Linked DNA regions of Homo sapiens: region 2 is linked to region 1. Evidence: fine-mapped expression QTL. Tissue or cell type: whole blood. Region 1 holds a variant in brackets; the other region holds the start of a gene. All regions are shown on one strand. Distances are from middle to middle.

The links. PIP is the estimated chance that this variant, and not a neighbour inherited with it, causes the effect.
Region 2: it holds the start of TC2N, and the variant in region 1 is fine-mapped to the expression of TC2N in whole blood (INTERVAL, PIP 0.96).

Annotation. Positions count from the first base shown.
Region 1 is chr14:91,816,769-91,827,392 of GRCh38, forward strand. All of the region lies in intron 1 of TC2N (tandem C2 domains, nuclear), which reads right to left. Among named protein-coding and RNA genes, the nearest start is that of TC2N, 45 kb to the right of the region's middle. The variant A/T (reference allele first, on the strand shown) is at 6,335.
Region 2 is chr14:91,863,838-91,871,837 of GRCh38, forward strand. It overlaps TC2N (tandem C2 domains, nuclear), which reads right to left and starts at 3,699. Exons shown (of 12, transcript NM_001128596.3): 1 at 3,425-3,699. It overlaps FBLN5 (fibulin 5), which reads right to left. Exons shown (of 11, transcript NM_006329.4): 11 at 5,574-6,548. The coding sequence ends at 6,387. RefSeq lists an enhancer at 3,865-3,914.

The DNA.
Region 1 (10,624 bases):
AAAAATTCCATATTTTCTCCACTTACAGGATGCTCCCTTTAGTACACATTAAATTTCCATATGCAATTGGGTTTATTGTGTATTTTCTATTCTCTTCAATTGTTCTGTCTATTCCTGTACCAATGGTATATCATTTTAATCTTAAATTCTTATATCATGTTATAACATGTAGCAAGACAAGTCATCTTTACCCCTCTTCACTTTCTGCATTTTCTTAGCTATTCTTGCTTGTCTGTTCTCGAAAATGAACTTTATAATCTGTCTAGCCCTAGGAGGAAAAATCTGATGGTACTTTCATCAGGATCATATTAAACTTCTAAATTATTTTTTTAAAACTGACATCTCTAAGAATATTGAGTCTTCCTACACAGAACATAGTATATCTTTATATTTGTTCAAGTTTATGCTTATACCTTTAGGAGTTTTTAGAGTTCTCATAAAAATTCTGAAGATTTCTCATTAAGTGTATGCCTGTATAATTTGCTTGGCTATCATAAATGGTATCTTCTCTTCCATTACATCTTGTGACTATTTCCATTTTTAAAATGTATGCGTTTTCAAAGGCCCTGTTCAGCCCCAGCATATCAGAGTAAAATACTCCGTAACCACCCAAATCAAACGAATAGTCTCTCATCTCTAAATGTCTAGTGTCTTTAAAAAAAAAAAGTTTAACATTTTTCTTAACATTTTATGAGATCTTGTTCTGTCTCCCCTGTTAGAACATAAACTGCTCAAAAACAATATTGTACTCACTTTCTGCTTAGCACTCAGCACACTACATGATGCTGGGAATATAATTGGAACTCAGCAAATACCTAGTTGATAGATAAGGAAACAAAGTACAACTATCTCCCATAAAAACTAAGAATATATTCATCAAACCACATCTCTGACCCCAATCAGTTTGCAAATATTTAACATTAACCATGACAGGAATGTGGTAGAATTGGTTAAAAATGACTGCTACTTCAGGGGGAAAAGTCCTCAACATTGATGGCCTTGAGTCATCCAAAATGAGTTGGGGAAGATGGAGGAAGGTAGTAGAAAGAGAGAAAAGTTTATATGAATGAAATGTGAAATCTAATTAAAATGAACACCCAGTAATACACTACAGGAAAGACAGTTAAAAAACACATGGATATTTTACTTTTGTACAAAATAGAGTAACAGAGACAGATTTATCCTACCACCTGAAAAGCAAATAAAATATATGGAACAGCAATTTTCAAGACACTGGCTATCAGACAGCAAAGAACTGAGAAATAGGAACTAAATGAGGTAAGCCTTCCACCTTACTCCCTTGAGGGAGTTTCCAGGCCATGGGAAATTACCCAAGCAAAGCCGAGAAGATTTTCTGAAATGAAGAGACAAAGCTGAAAGTATGTGGAGAATAAGGCAGCGAGAGTTTGCATAACAGACTACTGTAGAATAAAGAGGTACATACAGAGAACAATGGAGATCAGCAGAGGGTCCCACTCAAGTATTCAACAGAGTACTGATCAGCACACACACAAAAAAAGGAAGCTACACAAGACTGCGGGAAAAAAACACCAGAAAAATTTACAAAAACTATACATAACTGGTATTCACCAAGGTCAGGAGTGATGCTTGTCCCCACAAATCAGACTGGAAAAGGGATCAAATTGTTTACACAAAACTTAACTGTGTCCCAAAGCAAATTTACAGAAATCCAAAAATATCCAGCATTCAAGGTAAAACTCACAATGTCTGGTATTCAATTAAAAAAAGTACCAGGTATACAAGGAAGCAAAAAAATATATAGAACCCATAATGAAGAGGAAAAAAAAATCAATCAATTAGAAACAACCTAAAATTGAGACAAGGCAGTTGAGGACACTAAAATAGTTATAGCTGGACTCAATATGTTCAAAAGGTTAAGTAGAGATATGGACGATATTAAAAAGACCCAAATCCAATTTCTAGAGATGAAAACTATAATGTCTGAGATGGAAAATATACTGGATGGGATTAATACCAGATTGGATATTGCAAAAGAAAATATTAATGAACTTGAAGGCATAGTAAGATAAACTAACTAAAATGAGACACAGAGAAAAGACTAACATCAAAATGATAAAAAGCATCTGTGACTCATGGGACAATTTCAAGTGACCCAAAATACATGTATTTGGAGTCCACAAAGAAGACTGGGGATAGGGGGGAGGGCATATTTGAAGAAATAATGGCCAAAATTTTCCAAACTTGATAACTACAAACCACAGATCTAAGAACCTCCGCCAACACTAAGGTCAGGAAACATGAAGAAAACTACACCAATGCACACCACGCCATAATAACATCATTCAAAAACAGTGATGGGAAAATCTTAAAAGCACCCAGAGAAAAAAGACATGTTATGTACATCAAAGCAAAGATTAAGAATAGCAGCATATAGTTGAGCATGGTGGTGTGTGCTTGTAATCCCAGCTACTCGGGAGGCTGAGGCATAAGAATCACTTGAATCTGGGAGGCAGAGGCTGCAATAAGCTGAGATCATGCCACTGCACTCCAGCCTGGGTGACACAGAGAGACTCTGTCTCAAAAAATTAATTAATTAATTAAAAAGGATAGTAGCATAGCTCTCAATGGAAACAAAACAAAAACAGTAGAGCAAGATCTTTAATGTACTGAAAGAAAAAAACCCATCAACCTAGAATTTGACACTCAGAGAAAATCTTTCAAAAATGTAGGTGACATAAAGACTTCTTCAGACATACAAAAGTTGAAAGAACATATTACCAACAGAGCTACACCACAAGAAGTGTTAAATGATGTCCTTCAGGCCAAAGGATAATATCTGATAGAAATATGAATCTACACAAAGGAATAAAGTGCACCATAAGTATAAATACATGATTTATTATTATTGGGATTTCTTTACAAGTTTATTAAAGCTTAGACAAAAAAATTATACTGAGACAAAAGGTTTGTAACATATGTAAAACTAAAATGTATTACATCAATAGCACAAAGGCCGGGGGAGAAATAAAAGTAAAAATGTAAATAATTATAGTATATGTGATGTGGTATCATATCATTTGAGGACTGACTGTAGAAAGTTAAAGATATATACTATAAACCCTAACACAACCACTAAAATAAGAAAACAGAGTTACAGCTTATAAGCCAACAAAGGAGATAAAATGGAATAATTTTAAAATACTCAATTAATAAAAGAAAGCAGAAAAAGAAAGGGGGAACAAAGAACAGATAGGATGAGTAGAAAACAAATAGCAAGATGATAGATTTGAACTTAATTATATCAAGAATCACAAGTGTGAATACTTTAAAATATGCCAATTAAAAGGCAGAAATTGCCAGACTGGATAAAGAAGTATGATACAAGTATATGCTGCCTACAAGAAACATTTTAAATACAAATAAGTTAAAAATAAAAGGATGGATACCCCTTGAGAACATACACCCAAAATCCTCAATGAAATACTGGCAAGCCAAATCCAGAAACGTATAAAAGATTTATGTATCATAACCAAGCAAGATTTATCCCAGGATTGCAAGATTAGTTTAACATCTGATAATCAATTCATGTAATGCATCATATTAACAGAATAAAGGACAAAAACTATAGGATAATCTCAATAGATACAAAAATTTGACAAAATCCAATATTCGTGATAAAAATACTGAGAATAGAAGAGAATCTTTCAACATAATAATAAACAGCATCTATGAAAAAATCTATAGTTAACATCACAGGAACTGGTGAAAGATTGAAAGTCTCCCTCTAAAGCCAGGAAAAAAAAAAAAGATTTCTACTCTCTCTACCTTTATTCAACACTATATTTGAGATTCTAGCTAAGCCAATTAGGCTAAAAATATTTTGTCAAAGGCATTCATCTTGGAAATCAAGAAGTAAAACACTCTTCATTCACAGACAACAAGATCTTGTAAATAAAAAAAAAAAATCTAAGAAATTCACTAACAAACTTACCAGAAGTTCACTAAGGTTGCAAGATATAAGAGAAATATACAAAAGTTAATTGCATTTCTATATACTAACCATGAACACTCCAAAAATGAAATAGAAAACAATTCCATTCATAATAACATTTTTAAAAACTTAAAATACAAATACTTTAAGAAATGAAGTACAAGACTTATACACTGCAAACCACAAGACATTACTGAAAGATATTAAAGAAGAGCTCAATACTTGTGAAGATATCCCATGTTCATGGATTGGAAGATGTAATATCATTAAAATGGTAATATTATTAATATTGCTAAGGTGGCAATACTCCCCAAATTGATCTACAGATTCAACACAATCTCTACCAAAATCCCTTCCAGCTTTTTTACAGAAATTGACAAGCTGATCCTAAAACTCATATGGGAACGTAAAGGGTGCAGAATAGCCAAAACAATCTTGGGGAAAAAAAAAGAACAAAGTGGAAAGACTAACTTCAAAATTTACTACAAAACTAGTCATCAGGACAATATAATATTAGTATAAGGACAGATAAATAAATCAATAGAATTAAATTCAGAGCCCAGAAATACACCCTTACATTTATAGTCAATTGATGTTTAACAAAGGTGCCAAGAAATTTTAAAGGGAAAGAAATAGTGTTTTCAACAAATGGTGCTAGGACACTGAATATCAATATTTATATCCACATTATATCCACATGCCCTTCCCACAAAAAAAAAAATTGGATCCCTGCCTCCCACCATATACAAAAACTAACTCAAAACTGATTATGCACCTATATGTAAGAGTTAAAACTTCAAAACTCTTAGAAGAAAACATAGGAGTAAATCTTTGTAAACTTGGGTTAGGCAGTAATTTCTTAGACACAACACCAAAAGCACACATGATCAAAGAAAAATTTGATGTACTAGATTTAATTGAAATTAAAAACTTTGTGCTTTAAAAGACACCATTAACAAAGTGAAAAGACCACTCGGAGACTGAGAGAAGATATTTGCATATCACACATCCAATAAAATATGGATTATATCCAGCATATATAAAAAACTATTACAACTTAATAATAAAAAGAAAAATAACCCAATTAAAAAATAGGCAAAAGATTTGAAAAGACACTTCTCCAAAAAAATCTACAAGTGGCCAAAAAGCACATGAAAACATGCTCAACACAGTTAGTGATTAGGAAAATGCAAATTAAAACTATAAAAAGACAACAATATACATTGATTAAAAAGGATAAAATTACAAAGATTGACCATTCCAAATGTTTATGATATGTGACAAGTAGTATTCTCCTATTCTACTGGTGGGACTGTAAAATGGCATGACCACTTTAGAAAACAGTTTGACAAGTTTCTAAAGTTGAACATATACCTGCTACATGATCCAGACATGCCATTACTACATATTTACTTAAGAAAAAAGCAATCACATGTTTACACAAAGAGTTGTACACTGGTGTTCATAGCAAATCTATTCAAAATAGCCAAAAATTGAAAACTATCAAGTATCTATCAACAGATTAATCCATTTAGAAAACAAACTGTGGCTCAATGGAACACTACTCAGAAATAAAGAAGTAAGCTGGTTAAACATGCAACAATATGGATGAATCTCAAAATAATTATGCTGGGCAAAAGAATGCCAACAAAAAGAGTATGTGCCATACAGATATGTGCCATATTCTCTTGCATTTGCTTTATTAATAACAAAGTCATATTTCAGTTCTTATTTTGTCTTTAATTTGGCTTTTCTAGCTATCTTATTAATACTGATTTGTAGCTGAACTCCACTGCATGATTCAATTTATATAAAATTGTAGAAAATGGAAATTAATCAATAGTAACAAAAAGTAGATCAGAGGCTGCCTCGGGACAGTGAGGAGTGGGGAGATGAAGCACAGAGAGGGACAGAAAGGAAGGACTTGGTGGGGCAGGAGGAAACTTTGGAGTGGGGGTAATATACTCATTATCTTTTTTTTTTTTTTTTTTGAGACAGTGTCTCGCTCTGTCGCCCAGGCTGGAGTGCAGTGGCGTGATCTCTGCTCACTGTAAGCTCTGTCTTCTGGGTTCACGCCATTCTCCTGCCTTAGCCTCCCAAGTAGCTGGGACTACAGGTGCCCACCACCACGCATGGCTAATTTTTTGTATTTTTTAGTAGAGACGGGGTTTCACCGTGTTAGCCAGGATGGTCTCGATCTCCTGACCTCGTGATCCGCCTGCTTCAGCCTCCCAAAGTGCTGGGATTACAGGCATGAGCCACCGTGCCGAGCCTATACTCATTATCTTGACTGTGGTGATGGTTTCATAGGTACATACATACATGAAAACATGAAAACATCAAATTATCGATTTCAAGTAT[A/T]TGTAACTTACTACATATCAATTAGACCTCAATAAACCTGAAAAAATAATACATAAGTAGAATTACAGAACATTAACAGAAAAAGAGGCCTCAAAAACATTAGCAGAGCCGAAGGCTTAGAAATCATTTTATCAGGGGCCAGGCATGGTGGCTCATGCCTGTAGTCCCAGCACTTTGGGAGGCCAAGGCGGGTGGATCACCTAAGGTCGGGAGTTCGAGACCAGCCTGACCAACCTGAAGAAACCCCATCTCTACTAAAAATAAAAAATTAGTTGGGCATGGTGGCACATGCCTGTAATCCCAGCTACTCAGGAGGCTGAGGCAGGAGAACCACTTGAACCCGGGAGGCGGAGGTTGCAGTGAGCCGAGATCACGCCATTGCACTCCAGACTGGGCAACAAGAGCAAAATTCCATCTCAAAAAAAAAAAAAAAGAAAAAAGAAATCATTTTATCAAAGTCCTTCTAATTTTACCCAAAGAAAATAATGAGTCAAGCAACTAGATAATGTTAGGTTTAGAACCAAACCCTAAGCTTCACAACTTTTTCTAATACACCACATTGCTTTAGGTAGGGTATGGGTAGAAGGGCAGGACCAGTCAGGTTAACAGACTATGTGCTGGCTATCTACATAGCCACATGTTTGCTTTTTTAGCAACAAGGAGAAACAAATATAAATGGTTAAAAGTATACTGCCTATGTTCCAATCCTGTAACTTTCACTTATTAGCTATATGACCTTAAATCTGTTACTTAACCTTTTTAACCTTCAACTTCTTCATCAATTAAAAAACAACAACAACAACAACAACAAAACACTTCTTAGGGCTATTGTGATGATCAACCAAAGTAATGCACATAAAGTATAAAACTAGTGGTAGGGCTGTTTTAAGAATAAATGTTTGCTGTCATCAGCGGCATCATTATTATATTTATTATCATCAGATCCCACTTACAACAGATCTGATTCATGCTAGGCACTTTACCCAATGCCAGAAATGATATGGGGACATTTAGCTAGAACATTCTAGTATGAGGACAGATTGTAAAAAGACTTAAATACTTCCATATCAATAGATAAAAGCTATAAACACCCTAGTCACTTTAACTCCTCCCTAGGCACCCCTGAGGTAAATGTCTGAAAAAGCAGGGGCCTCCATGACTCTGCTCCAATATTACAGTCAGTGCTCATGCACGACAAGTTGTTAAAATACTTTTAATATCACTTCCTTTTGAGATTCCCAAAGGGCTTATTTGCCTCTGCTGGTCTGACATAGTCTAGGAACAGCCTGTCTATGGTATTCTCACAAATAAAGGACAGTACATCATCACGACTTTCCCCTGCAAACCTGCTTTTCCTCTGGTATTTCCTACTACAGTGCCACTATCCAGCTAATTAACTAAGCCAGAAATACAAGTGCCATTCTTGAGTCCTTCTGCTCCCAAAATCCACACATCCAATTCATCCATTCACTTACAAGCATTTATTGAGCATCTACTATGTACTAGGCAATTTGCTAGGCACTGAAGACAAAATAGGGAACAAGACAGACAAGCTTTTGGAGCGCTTACAACAGAGGAGGGAGATAAACAGAAAAATAAACAAACACATGATACATTCAATCCAATGAGGAAAATTAACCAGGATTCAAAAGGAATGAATGTTAACTTTGTATAATCAGAAAAGACTTCTCTGAGGAGGTAACAATCCAGCTGGAACATAAACACAAGAAAGGATCAGCTAGCAAAGTTCTTGATGGTGGAGCATTCCAGAAATTGCAAAAATCTTGAGTTGTACCCACTTTGCATTATTTTGCAAGGTACTAAGCAACAGAAAGAGTAGTTAGCAGGTGAACTGTGAAATAGGCAAGGGCTAGAATTCTGTTGAGTAGAGCCCCTTAATCCTTGTAATTTTCTTTTTCTTTTCTTTTTTTTTTTTTTTTTTTTTTTTTTGGAGATGGAGTCTCGCTCTGTCATCCAGGCTGGAGTGCAGTGGTGCGATCTTGGCTCACTGCAACCTCCGCCTCCGGATTCAAGCAATTCCCTGCCTCAGCCTCCTGAGTAGCTGGGATTACAGGCACCCGCTACCATGCCCGGCTAATTTTTGTATTTTTAGTAGAGACGGGGTTTCACCATCTTGGCCAGGTTGGTCTTGAACTCCTAACCTCGTGATCCACCCGCGTCGGCCTCCCAAAGTGCTGGGATTACAGGTGTGAGCCACCGCGCCTGGCCATCCTTGTAATTTTCACACCTTCCTTTCTATTCTCAATTTGACTATTTTGATTCAGATGTTATGATACCCCAAATTACAGAGAGCCAGCTAATAGGTTTGCCTTTCAAATTCTTTTTATCCCCCCACTGTGCTGCTAAGGTCCTTCGTCTGCTTTAAGTAATGCTATATCTCTCTATCACTTTCAGGATAAAATTTATTCTGCTAAATACAATATGTGACCCTTCTCTTGCTCATCTTCCACTACTTCCTTCTGCAAATACCAAGCTTCAAAATATAACTACCTGATGTGCTAGAAACACACCATTCTCTTTTTTACTTTTGCACCTTTGAACTACGTTAGGGTAGGAATGCTTCTTGCTGTCTCTAGTTTCTTTGAGAAAGATTTGTCTGTATTAGAAAACCTACTTGCCTGCAGATACATGCCATATCTAAATTAGCTTTATTAATAACAAAGCCCTATTTCAGTTCTCCATCTGTCTTATTCTTTTGTTTTTCTTTAATTTAGATTTCCTGGCTATCTTATTGATATTGATTTGTAGCTGAATTCCACTGTGATCAGAGAAATTGTATACAATCAATGATATTCATAGTATATCATCAATTTTAATAAATGTTCCATGTACATTTGCAACTTTGAGGTGCAATGTTCCATGTACATCACTAAATCAAATTCGTTGGTCATGTTAAAATCTTCTGTATCTTGGCAGGGCATAGTGCCTCATGCCTGTAAATCCCAGTATTTTGTGGGGGCCGAGGCAGGAGGATCATTTGAGTCCAGGAGTTCAAGACCAGCCTGTACAATATAGGGAGACCCCTATCTCTACAAAAAATTAAAAAATTAGCCAGGCATAGTAGTGCATACCTGTAGTTCCAGTTACACGGGAAGCTGAGGTGGGAGGATCACTTCAGCTCAAGAAGTGGAGGCTGTGGGAAGCCGTGATCGCATCACTGCACTACAGCCTGGGTGACAGGGTGAGACCTTGTCTGAAAAAAAAAAAAAAAGCAGGAAAAAAATATGTATCTCTATTGATTTTTTTTTCTGCTTGTTTTATATAGTACTAAAAGAGATGCATCTAAAAAGAAAACTCCAACTATGACTGTGGATATATCTATTTCTCCTTTTAGTTCTATCAGATTTGTTTCATATATTTTTATTCTAATTTATGAGGTACATATAAATTTATTAATCTCCCTTTCAATCTTTAGTAATACTTCTAGAAGCCTTAATGTTGGCTTGTCTGATATAACTAGAATTTCTTTCAGTTAATATTTGCATGTTATATCTTCTTTCCATCATTTTCTTTTCAACCTTTCTGTGTTATGCTCAAGGTGTCTTTTATAAGTAGTATGTAGTTAGATTGTGTTCTACTATCCACTCTGACAATCTTTGTATTTATTTGTATTTTAACTGTATTTAGTCCAGTCATAAAGATTTAAAACTGTTTTAACATATTGGTGATTTAAATCTCTTATCATTATGGTAACTTTTTAATTTCTAGAAATGCTTTTACCCTGAAAACAATTTTGTCTGATAGTTATAGCTATGCAGCTTTCTTTTAGAAAGCATTTGTATGGAATATCTTTTTCTGTTTACTGTTTCCATTTGTTTACCAACCTTTCTGTCTCCTCATGTTTTAGATATGTCTCTTATAAATAGCATTTAGTTAAAGTGTTTTAGTCCAGATAAACAATCTTTGTCTTTTGACTGTAATATTTATTCCACTTATATTTAAGATAACTGGCTGATATATATATGAATTTAAACCTATATTTTATCCTGGGCTTTCTATTTGTCCTACTTGTTCTCTGTTTCTTTCCTTTCATCCTTCCTTGGATTGACTAAGTGTTTATGATCTTCATTTTTTTCCCTCCAATAGCTTGGATATTGTATTACTTTCCTATTGCTGTTGCAACAAATTACCACAAATTTAATGGCTTTAAATAAACTTACTATCTTACAGTTCTGGAAGTTTGAAGTCTGAAATGGGTTTCACTGAGCTAAAATCAAGGTGTTGGCAGGGCTGCATTACTTCTGGAGGCTCTATGGGAAATTCCATTCC
Region 2 (8,000 bases), 46 kb after region 1:
AAAAAAAAAAAGCCTGACATGTTGGCACGTAGCTGTAGTCCCAGCTCCTCGAAAGGCTGAGATGGGAGGATCACAGGACAGGAGGTCGAGGCTGCAGTAAGCTATGATTACACCACTACACTCCAACCTGGGCAACAGAGCCAGACCCTGGCAAAAAAAAAGAAAAAAACCCAGAATAAAGAACAGAGGTCAGAATTCAGTCCTCAGAATTCAGTCCTCAGTTCTCCCTTACCTGAGGTCTGCATGCCAGGGGATCCATTTGGTGGGGGTCTGGGTTTCTGAAAAACAACTCAGGGATATATGTTAAGATGTTACCTTTAGTCTCTGGAGGGAACCAAACATCTCGCAACTCTAACTTCCCTGGCTATTGTTTTAAGCTACTATTACCTTCTTGTTTACCAAGTTGCTCCTTACTTCTCAGGGCTAGCTGGGTGCCTGGAATTTCCCTTGCAGGAACTCAAGATTTCGCTTTATTTCCATGCTTGTAGGGGAGTAGGGGGAAGGAGGCCCCTAAAAGGGGTCCCTGCTTCATCTCAATGTTGGCTTTTTTGGTAAGTTTTCAGATCAGGGGATGTAGAACGTTCACAAATAAAACAATCCACACTCGCTTTAGGGATAAATTATGAATGGTTCATACGTTAAAACTCCAAAGATGCCAAAGCACCTACCCTATTTTAAAGCATAGTAGCTATCGTGATACAAGCCAGTTTTGCAATGTCAAATTCATTCTGAGTAGAAGGTTGGAAACGAAGACTTAGAAAAAAGGAACAGGTTGAAACCAAAACAATCCTACCCAAACGAAAACTTCTTTTAAACAGAATCAAGTGATCCAATGACTCTGTGGCCTTAAATCAATGTTAATTAATTTCTCAAATCCTAATAAACAGGTATCATAATGGCACTGTATTTGTATGTGTGTACAATTTACCCTGCCTTCATCTTTTTTTTTTTTTTTTTTTTTTGAGACAGACTCTCGCTCTGTTGCCCAGGCTGAAATGCAATGGTGCAATCTCAGCTCACTGCAACCTCTGCCTCCTGGGTTCAAGCAATTCTCCTGCCTCAGTCTCTGAGTAGCTGGGATTATAGGTGTGTGCCACCACTCCCACCTAATTTTTGTATTTTTAGTAGAGACGGGTTTCACCATGTCGACCAGGCTGGTCTTGAACTCCTGGCCTCAAGTGATCTGCCCACTTCGGCCTCCCAGATTACAGGCATGAGCCCCTGTGCCCAGCCCCCTGCCTTCATCTTTACATTATTGCTCAAGAATATCCCAAATTCCTGAAAAAGTCACTGCCTGTCAACATGCAGTTCCCCTCTGAAAGAACACCAAAATGGCAATTCAGTAGATCACTCCTGTGTTGACACCTATTTTCTCACTTTAATGATTTATTTCTCTGATGGCTGCTGGCTAAGATTCATTATTAAGAACCATTAGTAAGTCAAACATTCTAACTGGAGGCTTTCATCCCCGCAAAAGCTACCAAAGTGATAAATTTTGCCTCTGTGCACTCCTTTGTCTTGGAGCCTCTTGGTTTTTTTTTTTTTTTTTTTTTAAAAAAACATCTTTTAGCTATGTTCAGGGATTCCAACAAAGATATCAGCCATTTGTTAAGTAACAGGACTAAGAAATTTGAAAACAAAAATATCAGCACAAGGAACAATCTGTATATTTGTTTGTAGTTTATAAGCATTGGCCAATTCCAAAATAATGAAGAGATTTGCTAAGTGCTCACGTTTTTTTTCAGATAAAAAAATATTGCATTTAAAGTAAACACAAATTGTATCAAAAAGAAAAAGTTTATCTAGCATTTATTAGTGTTTCCTTTCAAAATACTTAATAATTCTAAGCAGAGGCAACTTATTCTAAATTTCAAACACATGTCTATAAATTTTCATAAGAATTTTTCTTGTATAAAACAGATGTCTTAATAATTTTTAAAATCTAACTAAAATAATTTTGTGGACCCTGCTACTGCACCTACCACATTATATTCCAGTTTTGTCGTGTATGCTGCATAAACCCCTGGCTAAAGGTGTTATTAAAAAGTTATTAAAGTTTTAGATTAACTTTTTATAAAGTTTTAATAACTTTTAAAGTTATTAAAAAGTTATTAAAGGTGTTATTAAAAAGGTGTTATTATAAAGTTATCGGTGGACTGTCTATCCTGTTCATGTCTCTGAATCCAGCAACCGGCTTAACCAAAGTGGATTCTTAACCAAAGTATGTGATCCTCTCAAGACAAAGACCTTTTACAAACAATATTTCATCTGGCAAGAGGGGAGTAGAGGAGAGTTCCTTTGTCAAGTCTTCTCTCTGTGGGTGACCCCGTTGGCTCAGAATGAACAACTTGGGCACATTACAGTAACCACCCAGGCCACAAAAATGCGTTGAAACCACTGAAAATGAAATAATCAGACCTACTTAAATGTTTTTACCATCTGGGCAAATAACACCCCAAGGGCCAAGACTTACCTAAGAAAGTGTCTGAAGTATGTTACCCAAGCCTGAGAGGCAACAGGTAGGTGGATTTTGTGCCAATTAGAAAGTGTTATGATTGGCAAACCACTGCAAAACTCTGAAATTGCAGTGAAATGGAAATGCTGGCTGTCATCCCCAAAGTACATTTCAAGGAATCACAAAACTTCAGAATTAGAAGCAATTATTTAGGATGAACGTTTTCACCCACATGAAAGTTGGAAGATGAGGTGGTAACACGAGAGCTTTTGCAGGCGTCCCTACTCTTAATCCTGCGCCCCTTCCACCTTGGTACCCTTCATTCTTCAGGACCTGATGGAGTGGTACAAAGCAGAGGTCACTTGACAAGCTCAGCCCAGCTCCTGGATGGGGCAAAGCTGACAAGGAATAGGCACAGGGAGCCTGGAGATCTCAGGGTCCAGGAAACAGCCTGCCCCATTAGAACTGCACAGCAGAGCACAGCACTGGGATCAGAGAGCAGGCTCATCCCCAGTCTTGTACAAAAAATAACATTTGATGATTCCCAAGGGGTAGGTAAAGCAAGTAGCATTTGGGGTTCCAGCAGCCTCTAGAACTGTTTCCCAAATGTTTGGAGCTTGACTTTGCAGTATACACTTTGCCCTGGACTGTTTTTCTCTTAATTTTTAGGCCCAAGTGTATTTTAAGGTAAATGGATCCCACATGCCTCTGGTGCATTTACACTGAACCCATCAGACCACATTTTGAAAGCGCAATTTGAGGTCCAAGAAGCCCTTGGAGGCTGCTTTTATGAGCCTGAGTTTCTTTTCTTAGAAGCAGGAAGCCACATTTTGACATGAACAAATAAAACACAAACCTTAAAGACTCGGATCTGGTTCCAAATGTGGCACCTCTGAAACCAGTGGGTCCTCAAATCATCAAGACAGAAAGCTTCCCAGTTTTCTTTTTGAGAAGTTCATGGAGACTTACCCCTGTGTTCTGTTGAGCCCAGAGGCAGTGGTTCGGAGGCGCTCGGTGCAAAGCTCACGTAAACCTTCAGCATTTCTGATTCCATCCTTCTTCCCAGCCCCTGAGTCTCCCTACACAGCAGGGACCCAGGCTCACTGCTGCCTTCTGGCCTTTGCTTTTCGGAGCCGAGCTGAGTGAGTCCCAAGGGAATCACCCTCTGTTTTATAAGCTTTGAAACCAGAGCATCCTGAGCCATTTGGTGCTGATGTGATTGCTAACACCACTTGACCCTGACTGAAGAACCACAACTAGGCATGGTTTAGATGTGCTTAGTTAGAGAAAAAAATAACCACAGCCAACAGCAAAGTGAGGTGTGTGGTGTGGGTGTGAGAAATGCTCTTGGGGTGAGGAGGGAGGACTTGCAGCTTCTTGGATGCTACAGGGCGTGGAACATGCTGTTTCCTTCCACTGAAGGCCTAAGATACTACTAAGTGGAACAGGAGAATTCCCTGGCCCCCTCACAGGATGTGCAACAGGGGTGTGGCTCTCTCTTCAGCCACCCCAAGCTAAAACCCCTTATGGGAAGGGGAGCACGCAGACAGGCAGGTGCAGGAACCAGGGTGAGCACTTTTGGGCCCCAGCCCCATGACAGCATCCCGGGGTCGGTGTCTGTGACTTCCAAAGCCCGAGTAGGCACTGAAACAGTGCAGTCTTTCAGCCTTGCCATCCGTGGACAGCTTAAGCGTTAACCAGCTTAGTGGACCCTCTCCCTTTTTGCCAGGGCAGAGGGCCAGTGTGACAGTTTCCTGTATCCCGAGCTCTTGTCCAGCATCCCGGAGGGATCAGGTCACACATGGATTTGCAGGATGAATGCAGGGGTTTTATTGAGTGGTGGAGGTGGCTCTAAGTAGGATGGATGGGGAGCTGGACAGGGGATGGAGTGGGAAGATGATCTTCCCCTGGAGTTTGGCCATCCAGTGGCCAGTTTTCAGATCGTCTCCAGTCGAATTCCTCCCAATGTTCCTTCTCTTCTCTCCTTCTTTGCCGTGCTTTTCTGCCATTCATGTCTGCTCATCTTCTTGTCTCCCCGTCTGCTTCTGGAGCCTGGAGCCTGGGGTTCAGGGTTTATATGGGTACAGGATAGGGGACATGGCAGGCCAAAAGGCAACTTTTTAGGGATGAAAACAGGAATGGCTGTCCTCATTTAGGGCCATGGGTACCCAGGCTTGAGGGTGGGGCCTTTGCCAGGGAACCACCCTCTTCTACCCAGTATTTCCCTGTCTCCTGTCCATATCACAAGGATCTGTGGAATGCCTACTAAGACTAGGGGTCCAGGACACAACTCCTGATAGGCACTGTGGGGGTCCTTAATGAATACCTCACCAACAGGTAGGATGGGAGCACCCTCAGATGGATCTGTAGACTCCACCTCAGCTATCAGGGAGTGCACTTTTTTCCTGAAGCCTTGGGTTGATTCCTGGGATGGCACATAAAGACAGCCATCCCAACCTGTTCTCCTGTGACTTGCAATGTTGACTCTCTTGGCCCCTGCACAGGGTTCTAAGACTTGAAGGATGTCCAGAGGCCCTGACCAGGAAAAGAATAATGTATCCTACAATGAGCAGAAAAGACATTGAGGGCAAGGCAGCTAGGGCTCCAGCCCCATCTGTCCACCTCTCTTTCTAGGGTTTATAACAATACATTCTCAACTCTGGCTACATAGTCAAGTTTTCAAAAATCCTGATGGCCGGGCCCTACCTAAGCCCAATGACATCAGAGTGTCTGGGGGCATGTCCCGGGGAATCAATCTTTCCTCCAAAGTTCTACTGGTTATCCGTCTATGCAGCCAGGGTTGAAGGCCACTGGTTTAAAGTAACTTGAATACATTCCTGTTCTGCAGGAGCACCGGAAATAATCTACGTAAGAGAAGGATTGTTGGTTGTTTTCTAATCAGATGAAACAGGACTCAGGGATGATGCCTCCCCCTAACTTCCCCACGACCCCTATTTCTCTGCCCCACCGCCCCCCTCCCATCAATTTGCCAGAGTCACAGATAATGCCCTAGCTCTCTGGAGAGCTTTCTAAGCCAGCGCACAATAAACAGGTTTAAACAGAACTAGAACCCCAAAGGCTGACTCGTCTATGATGTCAAAATGAACCAAACACAAGCTCTCTTCAAATATTTAATCAGTTTGGAGACCTCTGCATTCCAATCCAATTGGGTAAAAATTCTAAAGAAAGCAAGATTAAGGGGTCCTCAAAGAAAACACTGGGCTAAAATGGAGAGGAGACTGGGTTTGGGAAGACAGAACATAGCATGTGTCTGAAGGCCTTTCGAAGGAATTCTACGACATATTTTTTAAAAATACTCAAAATGAACAAGACAGAATTAAACCGTTATACAAATTTAAGGACAACTGAAACTTCTTTTATGGTTGAAAATACCAGGCATGGTTTTGAAACACATTCTCTAAAAACCCTTCGATCCTGCTGTGGTTTGTTTACATAGCCTTCTCTGTGTACGCAAAAAGCAAACTAGCTACTCCCAGGGTTCCCCGCCAGCTCCCGGGTCTTTGCAAAGCAGTAACACAGTGAGAGAAGGAGTGGAAGAGGTGAAGAAGTGACAGCAAGCTGTTCACAGTCTTTGAACATAGACTCAGACCCCCGCAAACCTAATCTATTTTCTTTGAAAATAGTGGAAATAAACTGAAGGCCTTGAAAATTCACCAACAATCTTCTATCAGGGGAGCAATGATAATACTTTTTGATAACTGTGTCATAGGAACTGGGGGTGGCAAGTCCTGCAGGGTGACAGGTCTGCAATAGTACAGGTGAGAGTCAGGAAGTCGGGGCTGACTCTTCGGGGAAACGTTCAGCAGGAAATGCCTAACGTCTGTGTCGCTCTCATTCTCTCTGTTATTTCCTCTCTTCTCCTGTCCCTTGGTGCCAATGAGAGGCAGCGTCGGAGGCTCCAGCCCGAGGCTCAGAATGGGTACTGCGACACATATATCCGCAGTCGGATCACGGAGCTGCCTCTGAAGTTGATGACAGTGTTGACAGTGATCATTTCCAAGTCCAGCTGGATTTCCCGGGGCCCTTTGATGGGGCGTGTCATCACCAGGGTGGCACTGATGGGGCCCGTTTGCTATGGACAGAACCGGGGAACACCAGTGAGAAAAGGCCTGCATGGTGGCCCTGCAGCCCCACCTGGGCGCTCCCTTGCCTCCGTCAGTCAAACTGGCACCCCCTCGGTGCCTCAACTGTGCCATGCTCTTTCCCTGGCTTTGCCCACTCTCCACCTGGTTCTTTTCTGCAAACCCTTCAGGTCTCATCTGAAAGGTCACTTCCTAAGAGGAGCCTTCTCTGGTTCCCCAATCTAAGTCAGGTCCCCCTGCGACCTCTGACGCTGCAGCCTTTACTTTGTACAGGATGGAAAGCATTTATGACCATGTATGATTGTCCATACTGTCTACCTGATCCGTGTCTGATATCTAGGCTCCCACTAGGCTATGAGTTCTGTAAGAACAGGTACTGGGGTCAGGCTTTTCACCACTGAGTCCCCCTAGAAGCCAGCATGGTGCCTTGAACACAGAAGGTGTTCAGAAAACATATATTGAATGATGAACGAATCATTGATTGAAACTTCTGCATGGCTTAGGGCTGTCACTTCACCCCTCTGGGGCTCATCTCTCAAATGAGGGTTTGGCATTGAGTACATACACATGGACACAAAGAAGGGAAAAACAGGCACCAGGGCCTGCTTCAGGGTGGGAGGCAGGAGGAGGGAGGGGATTGAAAAACTACCTACTGGGTACTATGCTTATTACCTGGGTGATGACATCATATATACACCAAACTCCTACGACACAGTAATTTATCTATACAACCAACATGCACATGTACTCTTGAAAGTGGAATAAAAGTTTTAAAAAACGTTTTTGAGGAAAAATAAAATGAGGGTTTGGACCAGATCAGTAATTTAAAAAAAAAAAAAAAAAGGCATCAAAGGCTACTGGAACTTTTTTTGTTAAACTAACAATTCCAGGGGCCCATTCCAAGATTTTCTATGTCAGTATATTTTTAGGTGATGCCTGGGAAAGGTGGAATTTAAGAACCCCCCTCTAGGCACCCTAGAGTCATCTCCAGCTTCACCATTCTGTAACCTGATCACTGTGGTCCTAATAATTTCGCGTGAACTCTCTCCTCCACTGAGTCTTTTTCTAAAACTTTCAAGGAGGAAGGCAGAGAGGAATGACATCAACTGAGCACCCATCATGTGTGAGGCACTCTTCTAACCATGTTTATGTACATCTGCTTATTTAATCCTCATAAAATGGCCAGGCACCATGGCTCACAACTGTAATCCCAGCATTTGGGAGGCCGAGGTGGGCGGATCACTTGAGGCCAGGAGTTGGAGACCAGCCTGGCTGATATGGTGAAACCCCATCTCTACTAAAACTAGAAAAATTAGCAGGGCATGTTGGCAGGTGCCTGTAATCCCAGCTACTTGGGAGGCTGAGGCACAAGAATTGCTTGAACCTGGGGGGCAGAGGTTGCAGTGAATAGAGATCGCACCACTATACTCCACCCTGGACAA